Linked DNA regions of Homo sapiens. The protein of the gene in region 2 purifies or fractionates together with the protein of the main gene of each other region. This does not show direct contact. Each region holds a gene or a part of one and is shown on either strand. Other genes may lie near its edges.

Region 1 (3,750 bases), on a different chromosome or scaffold from region 2:
AGACAAACCAGAACCACAGATGAGAAGATTCATATTGTAAACATGTCAGTTCTCCCTGAAATAATATATAGATTCAACACAAAATCCCAAGTCTTTTTGTAGAAATTGACAAGCTAGTTCTAAAATTTTTATGGAAATAGAAAGGGTTCAGAATAGCCAGGATAACTATAAATTTTTTTAAAAAAGACCAAATTTCGGCCAGGCGCGGTGGCTCACGCCTGTAATCCCAGCACTTTGGTAGGCCAAGGCGGGCAGATCACAAGGTCAGGAGATCGAGACCATCCTGGCTAACGCGGTGAAACCCCATCTCTACTAAAAAAATACAAAAAAATTAGCCGGGCGTGGTGGCGGGTGCCTGTAGTCCCAGCTACTCGGGAGGCTGAGGCAGGAGAATGGTGTGAACCCAGGAGGCGGAGCTTGTAGTGAGCCAAGATCGAGCCACTGCACTCCAGCCTGGGTGACAGAGCAAGACTCTGTCTCAAAAAAAAGACCAAGTTTAAAGTATCACACTAGCTGATTTCAATCCTCGGTATAAAGACATGAAGCTAGATCAATGGAATGTGGCTAGGAAATTGACTTAAACATTTATGGTCAATTGATTTTCAACAAAGGGAAAAAAGTAGTCTTTCCACACACTGTTAGATCAATTGCACATTAATATGCAAAGAAATGAAACTTGACTCTTACAACATATGTAAAACTTAACTCGAAATTGTTCACAGACCTAAATGTAAGAGGTAAAAAGATAAAATCTCCAGGAAAAAAAAAGTAAAAATCTTTGTTACCTTGGATTAGGTAAAGATTCTTAGATAGGACATAAAAAGTATGAACTATAAAAGAACCTGTTAAGAAAAAGACATAAACTGACAGAAAATATTTGTAAAGTACATATCTGATTAAGGACTGTTATATAAAGAATTATAGAATTCTTACAATATTAAAAAGGTAAACCTGAACATTTAACCAGACTATATGGATGACAAAAACAAAAGCCACAAAAGATACTCAACATCATTAACCACTAGAGAAATGCAAATTAAAGGCCAGGCGCAGCGGCTCATGCTTGTAATCCCAGCACTTTGGGAGGCCGAAGCAGGTCAATCACCTGAGGTCAGGAGTTCGAGACCAGCCTGACCAACATGGCAAAACCCCATGTCTACTAAAAATACAACATTAGCTGGGCATGGTGGCGCATGCCCATATCCCAGCTACTTGGCAGGCTGAGGCAGGAGAATCTCTTGAACCCAGCAGGCAGAGGTTGCGGTAAGCCAAGATCATGCCATTGCACTCCAGCCTGGGCGACAAGAGCGAAACTCCGTCTCAAAAACAAAAAAAGAGAAATGCAAATTAAAACAATGATATATTTCTACACGCCTACCATGAAGGCTACAATTAGGAAGACTCACTACACCAAATGCTGATGAGAATGTGGAGCAATTGGAACTCTCATATACTGCTGGTGGGAATGCAGTATGGTAGAATTACTTTGGAAGACAGTCTGGAAGTTTTTTATAAAGTTAAACATACTTACCATACAAGTCAGCAATCCCACAATAGATATCTATTTAAAAGTGTTCGACCCTAGTTATTTTGTCCAAGATGTACATGAAGTTTCACTATTTACATTTTCCCTGTGGAGCCATCAGCAGTGTTTAAAAAAAAATTTTTTTAATCTCCTTCAAGTACTTGGGGAAGCCTGCCCACCTTAAACCTGAAGCAACATTAAATTACAAGAACTACACACCATCTAGAACAATTTTCCAAACCTCAAGCTGAGACTCATTAGTGCGTACTCTACCAGTTCAACACCAACAGTTGTAACAATATGAAAAAAAACAGAATGCATCCCATCTAGTAAGGTTTATATATACACCTAGAGAATCCTTTATTTTCGTTGTGTATATCACAGGTTGCCACATAAATGTACTTTTATCATGGATCATTTTTAAAACATTTTAAAAACACTGACCTAAAGCATACTTGTAACATAAGCTCCATGCTACCAGAAGCTTCTAAACCTTCTAAGCACTTATAACTTGATTCATCCTATTTTAGGAAGCAATGAAACCCACAGTAGAGCTATCATAGTGTCTATGGTTGTTATGATTACTTATATGCCTTTGGTGTCCTGCCTTAAGGAATTATCAGTATATCTTACGTTTGTCACAATTGACCGTCATTTTTCAATACTAAAATCATACATTTTTCAGCTTTCACTGAAATTTCAAGACTAAAGAAACAAAATACAAATATTTCACTAACTTTTCCCCAATGGCTAAAAAAAGAGGCAAAAGTCAGAAGTTACTAATCTTCATATAATAAATACACTGTAACTTGGCAACATATTATGAAGAACCTGGTAATCTAGAATGCAGATGTATTCAAGATGCACTAAAGAGTAATCGACACGCAAAATTATCCATTTCAGTACATACTGACTCTAATGATATTCAAAGGACACTGACTTCATAAACTCCTTACAAAAAGATGAGATTCAATCTCCACTAAAAAATTGTCACTGGCTGCCTAATCATAATTTACACATTTTATACATTATAATAAATAACTCCCTTGAGAAGTACCTTAAAATTACTTTTTTATCAATTACTATCTTTTAATTTAGAAGGGTTAGAAAGTTGTAGGAGTGTCTGTCCAAAAGGAAAGAAATATGAGTAGAAACAAGCAATGTATTGAAATAAGTTTATTTTATTAACAATGTTTATCTTTACAAAACCGTATATATATGGGATAATAAAATCTGTGTGGCTAATAAATCACTGATTTCCAAAAGCACTACTCTACACCTAGTATACAGTAATTTGAGAAACTATTACATTTAAACATTTAAACCTACAGGTATCTCTGACTTTGATAATTATTCTTTAAAAAAAAAAAAAATTCCAGGAGGCTGAGGTGGGAGGATGGCCTTGAGCCCAGGACGTGGAGGCTGCAGTGAGCCATGAGGGTGCCACTGCACACCAGCCTGGGAGACAGAGCAAAACCCTGCCTCACCCTGCCCCCCGCCTCCCACCAAAAAAAAGAATCCTACATTGAAATTTAGATAGGGCTCACAAAGATTAAAATCCCTGGCCTATCCTCTAAATCCATGCTAGTCTAAAACAACACTCTGTTGGCCCAGGTGAATCTTGTGGATTTGGGAGCTCTAAGTAAACATATCTTTTAATCATAAATAACATCTGGGAAATTATTCATCTTCATTCCCACAACATAATAGGAAGTTTTCTGAAGTATAATTTTCTTTGATGGGAAGAAAGGAGATAATTAATCAGTTTAAGTAAAATCAATTACAAAGCTTGAATATTAACATTGAAAGGGCACATGCTATGGTGAAATAACTGGAAATGTAAAGGCTACAAGAAAAATTTATCTATTTGTTCTATCCCAATTTTACTATTTAGCAGTAATTCACTGCTAAAAAATCTGTAGAAATACAAATAATGAAAATGTATCAGAAAAATACTTAAATCTACAACCCTGTAGATAGACAATCGTAATGTTTAAATATTGAAGTCTTTTAAAAAAGGAATCTATTTCCTTAGGAAAATCCTAACTTGGAATTTGACTTTTAAAAGGAAGGCTTTATAAGTGTACCATACTTTATTTATTTATTTATTTATTTATGACGCAGAGTTTCCCTCTGTCGCCCAGGCTGGAGTGCAGTGGCACAATCTTGGCTCACTGCAACCTCCACTTCCCAAGTTCAAGCTATTCTCCTGCCTCAGCCTCCCA
Region 2 (3,750 bases):
AGCTAAACAGGTTATAGCCCAGACGTGTTCAATAAGTTCCTGGTACTCATAAACCTTATCTCAAGGCACTACCAATCTCATTTATTAATCACGGGAGTGTACATATCCTTCCTCAAACATTCTCCAACTCCATACGCTTCCCTTTGTAGATAACGCTCTTCTCCTCTTTCCCCGACTACTGAAAGAACATCCATTCTTTCAAGATCCAGTCCAAATGACACCTTCTCGGGTGTCTCTCCGTTTCCTATGTAGTTAGCCCGCCACGCGATTGCGTCAGAATATACTTCTCTCATAATACATATGCAACTGAACCATAATTATGCACCTAGGTGCTATGCCCTCTAGATTACGTGAAATGTCATTCTTAAATCTTCAGCACTTAGCCTGTTGCCTGGCACGTAACAGGTCACTAAATGCTCTCTCTATACACATGCTCACACAAGAATATGCATATGTATATATATGTATAAAATGCCTGGTTAAGATAGATTCATGCGCCGATGGCTGGTCAGAGGAACACATGGGTGTGCTCTGAAGGAAGCGATGGCCCTATGCGGACAGGGTAGTTGTCCTAGAGTCCCCAGGCGCACCTCAGTGCTTAGGCGCAGCGCTGAGGGGATGGCCTCTGCCACAGAGACAGTCGGATTTCTCCATTTTGGGACGCAGCTCGGCAGGGCACCGGGAGGGGGCGGCGTTGTCACGCAGCTGGATGCTCCACGGGTGACACCCCCGCACCCTACCCCTCACCCCCGAGCCGCGCAGCTTGAGTGACTAGGCCGGGGCTCCCCCAGTTAGGAGGTGCGGGCTGTTTTTCCTCCCAGTCTGGGCGGGCAGGGCTGAGCAGGGTTTGGGGAGTATTCTGTGACCCTGGCATTCTCCCCTCTGCCCCACCTCAGCCCCCGGCAGCGTCTAGGCGCTGGGAAAGCTGCTCCGGGTTAGTTGATGGAGGCAGCGAGCTGCCGAAGAGACGGCCACAGCTTTCTAGCAAAGAGTGGTGGTGGCGCGAGTGAGCGTGCGTAGAATTAGCTCTGCCGAAGTCACCGAAGCTGGAGGAGAGAATTCATTTTATTCTTGAAACTCCTACTTTTACGTCTCGTGGAAAACCAAATCGTATTCCACTGACACTATGATGCACTTAAAATGGCCAAACTTTAGGGGGCCGCGAGGAACGCGCTTCGCCGCCTCCAATTTTGTCAGAGAACTCGCAGCAAAGGCACCGGACACCTAGCGGCCCTTTCCCTGGACTCCGGGGCAGCACGCACTCCCCGGGCGCGCTCTCTGCGCCCACTCGGCCCGCCCAGTCCTCGGCCATTGGCTGCTCGCCCGCGTCTGCTCCGTGACGCGCCCTGACCCCCGCGAAGTACTGGCCCCTTGGAGCCACTCGTGCGCAGGAGCCGCGCACGCCCGAGGCCCGTGGTGCCGCCCCCGCGCCTTCTCGGGCTCGCCCAGAGCTCCCCGGCGCGCTTCCCGAGGTTTCGAGAATCGAAACCCAGTTATCAACAAGCCCTTCCCACTCACGCGCCGTGACTGATTTGCGTGCAAGAGTGGACTCATGAGTCCACACTTGGATCGGGTTTATCAATGGAGTAAATGGTCTACCTAAAAACCGAGGTTTAAAAGAGCGGTCGTGAGGAACCTCCGGAGCCCAACCGTGATGATCTAAAGACGGGCTGAGTCCGCGAGAATTTTGGGAAGTTTCTGCAGTTGCAGGATTTTAGTCGTGATCTGGTTTTGATGACCACTTATGATTCCTGGGGCATTTAAAGTGTCTCCTCCTGGGGAAAATGAAAAGAGATTTGTGGGAGGGGGCGTACATAAATTAAATGTATGTATAAATACACGCATCTACGGGCGCACACAGTATCCGCACATACAGCCCAGGACCTCACGCTCACCGGCAGTCGTCCCGCACTAACTGCTGGGCTAGTCAGCTGCGTGCCCTGCGGGCGGGGGAGGGCAGAGGGGGCGGCGCCCTATGCAGATGAGGAGGGTGTGGCGAACGTGCCGCTCTGGGCCCCGGAAGCGCAGAGAAGCCCGGTATAAAAAAAGTACTGAAGACATTTTCCCCGCACAACTGCTAAAGCTCCAGAGACACGAGCGTGTGTGGCAGCAAGAGCCGCCAGTTCGGGACCACCGCAGCTGGGGTGGCAGCGGCGCAGGAGGGGTCGCGGGGAGGGAGTGGTGAGCGCAGGCGGCAGGGGTCTGGGAAAGACGAAGTCGCTATTTGCTGTCTGAGCGCGCTCGCAGCTCCTGGAAGTGTTGCCGCCTCTCGGTTTCGCTCTCGCTCGCTGCGCTCCTAGAAGGGGCGGCCGCCTCCAGGTGACACAGACGGGACTCTCGCTTGCGCTTTCCAGATGCATCAGAGATACTTTTGGTGCGGGGCTGCTCTGCGGGGCGCGGTGCGCGGCTGGGGACTGTAAGGGCCGGGGGAGGGAGTCTCCGAGGAGGCCCGGGGTCAGGGAACTATCGGGGGAGGGGGCGCTCTTTTCCTGGCGGGCCTCTGCTCTCCGCCGCCGCGCGTGCTCTCCGCCGCCGCGCGTCCTCACCGCGCTCCTTTCCCTTTCTTTTTAGGACTGACCAGGGCCAAGTGGCGCTCGGCGGGCACTACATGGCGGAGGGTGAAGGGTACTTCGCCATGTCTGAGGACGAGCTGGCCTGCAGCCCCTACATCCCCCTAGGCGGCGACTTCGGCGGCGGCGACTTCGGCGGCGGCGACTTCGGCGGCGGCGACTTCGGCGGTGGCGGCAGCTTCGGTGGGCATTGCTTGGACTATTGCGAAAGCCCTACGGCGCACTGCAATGTGCTGAACTGGGAGCAAGTGCAGCGGCTGGACGGCATCCTGAGCGAGACCATTCCGATTCACGGGCGCGGCAACTTCCCCACGCTCGAGCTGCAGCCGAGCCTGATCGTGAAGGTGGTGCGGCGGCGCCTGGCCGAGAAGCGCATTGGCGTCCGCGACGTGCGCCTCAACGGCTCGGCAGCCAGCCATGTCCTGCACCAGGACAGCGGCCTGGGCTACAAGGACCTGGACCTCATCTTCTGCGCCGACCTGCGCGGGGAAGGGGAGTTTCAGACTGTGAAGGACGTCGTGCTGGACTGCCTGTTGGACTTCTTACCCGAGGGGGTGAACAAAGAGAAGATCACACCACTCACGCTCAAGGTAACACCACCCGAGATGCACTTGGGTCCTGACCCAGTCTGGGCCGGGTGTGACGGGGAGCGGGCAGAGGGGCATCGGTTAAATGCCATGAATCTGTGGCCATCACGAGTTTGGGCGCGCGTTATTTCTTTGATTTTTGATTTTTTAAACCAGTAAACTGACGTGCGTGGACGGTGTTGAGTGTTTCAGTTTACTTGATGCTTTGGCGCTACAACTCTTCTCCCAGGTCCTCCTCTGCCCTCTCTTCTCTTCTTTCTCCTTATGTTTTAACTCTTGGCTTTCCCTGTTGGAGTCTTGTCCAGAGTAGATTCTGATACTTGGCAGAATGAAATGATGTAAATAATTTTTGAGTCATTATATTTGAGTCTAGCCTTTGGGAAAATAACAGCCTGAAGCAGAAGTGAGTCAATGAGTTTTTTATTGTACTGGAAAAGGTGAATAGATTTCACAGCGGCATTCAGCTGACTACGTGTTAAAGGTCTATCTGGTGGTTCTTCGTGCTGGTTCATATGTTAAGGGTATAGTGGCACCCCCTCCCCACCCTCCACTTTAGTTCAAGACGGGTTTTATATGATTAGTTAAAATTGTCT

The links. Proteins that work in one complex are often made in the same cells at the same time.
Region 1: the proteins of TENT5A (region 2) and DCAF6 purify together in Homo sapiens (affinity purification with mass spectrometry; 3 studies listed by BioGRID and IntAct, with this or other methods). This does not show direct contact.

What each region holds. Positions count from the first base shown.
Region 1 is NC_000001.11:167,939,655-167,943,404, reverse strand, and holds part of DCAF6 (DDB1- and CUL4-associated factor 6), read right to left. Parts: intron 1-3,750. UniProt on the Homo sapiens protein: Ligand-dependent coactivator of nuclear receptors. Enhance transcriptional activity of the nuclear receptors NR3C1 and AR. May function as a substrate receptor for CUL4-DDB1 E3 ubiquitin-protein ligase complex.
Region 2 is NC_000006.12:81,751,000-81,754,749, reverse strand, and holds the start of TENT5A (terminal nucleotidyltransferase 5A), read left to right. Parts: upstream 1-2,068; 5' UTR 2,069-2,319; intron 2,320-2,571; 5' UTR 2,572-2,608; coding exon 2,609-3,160; intron 3,161-3,750.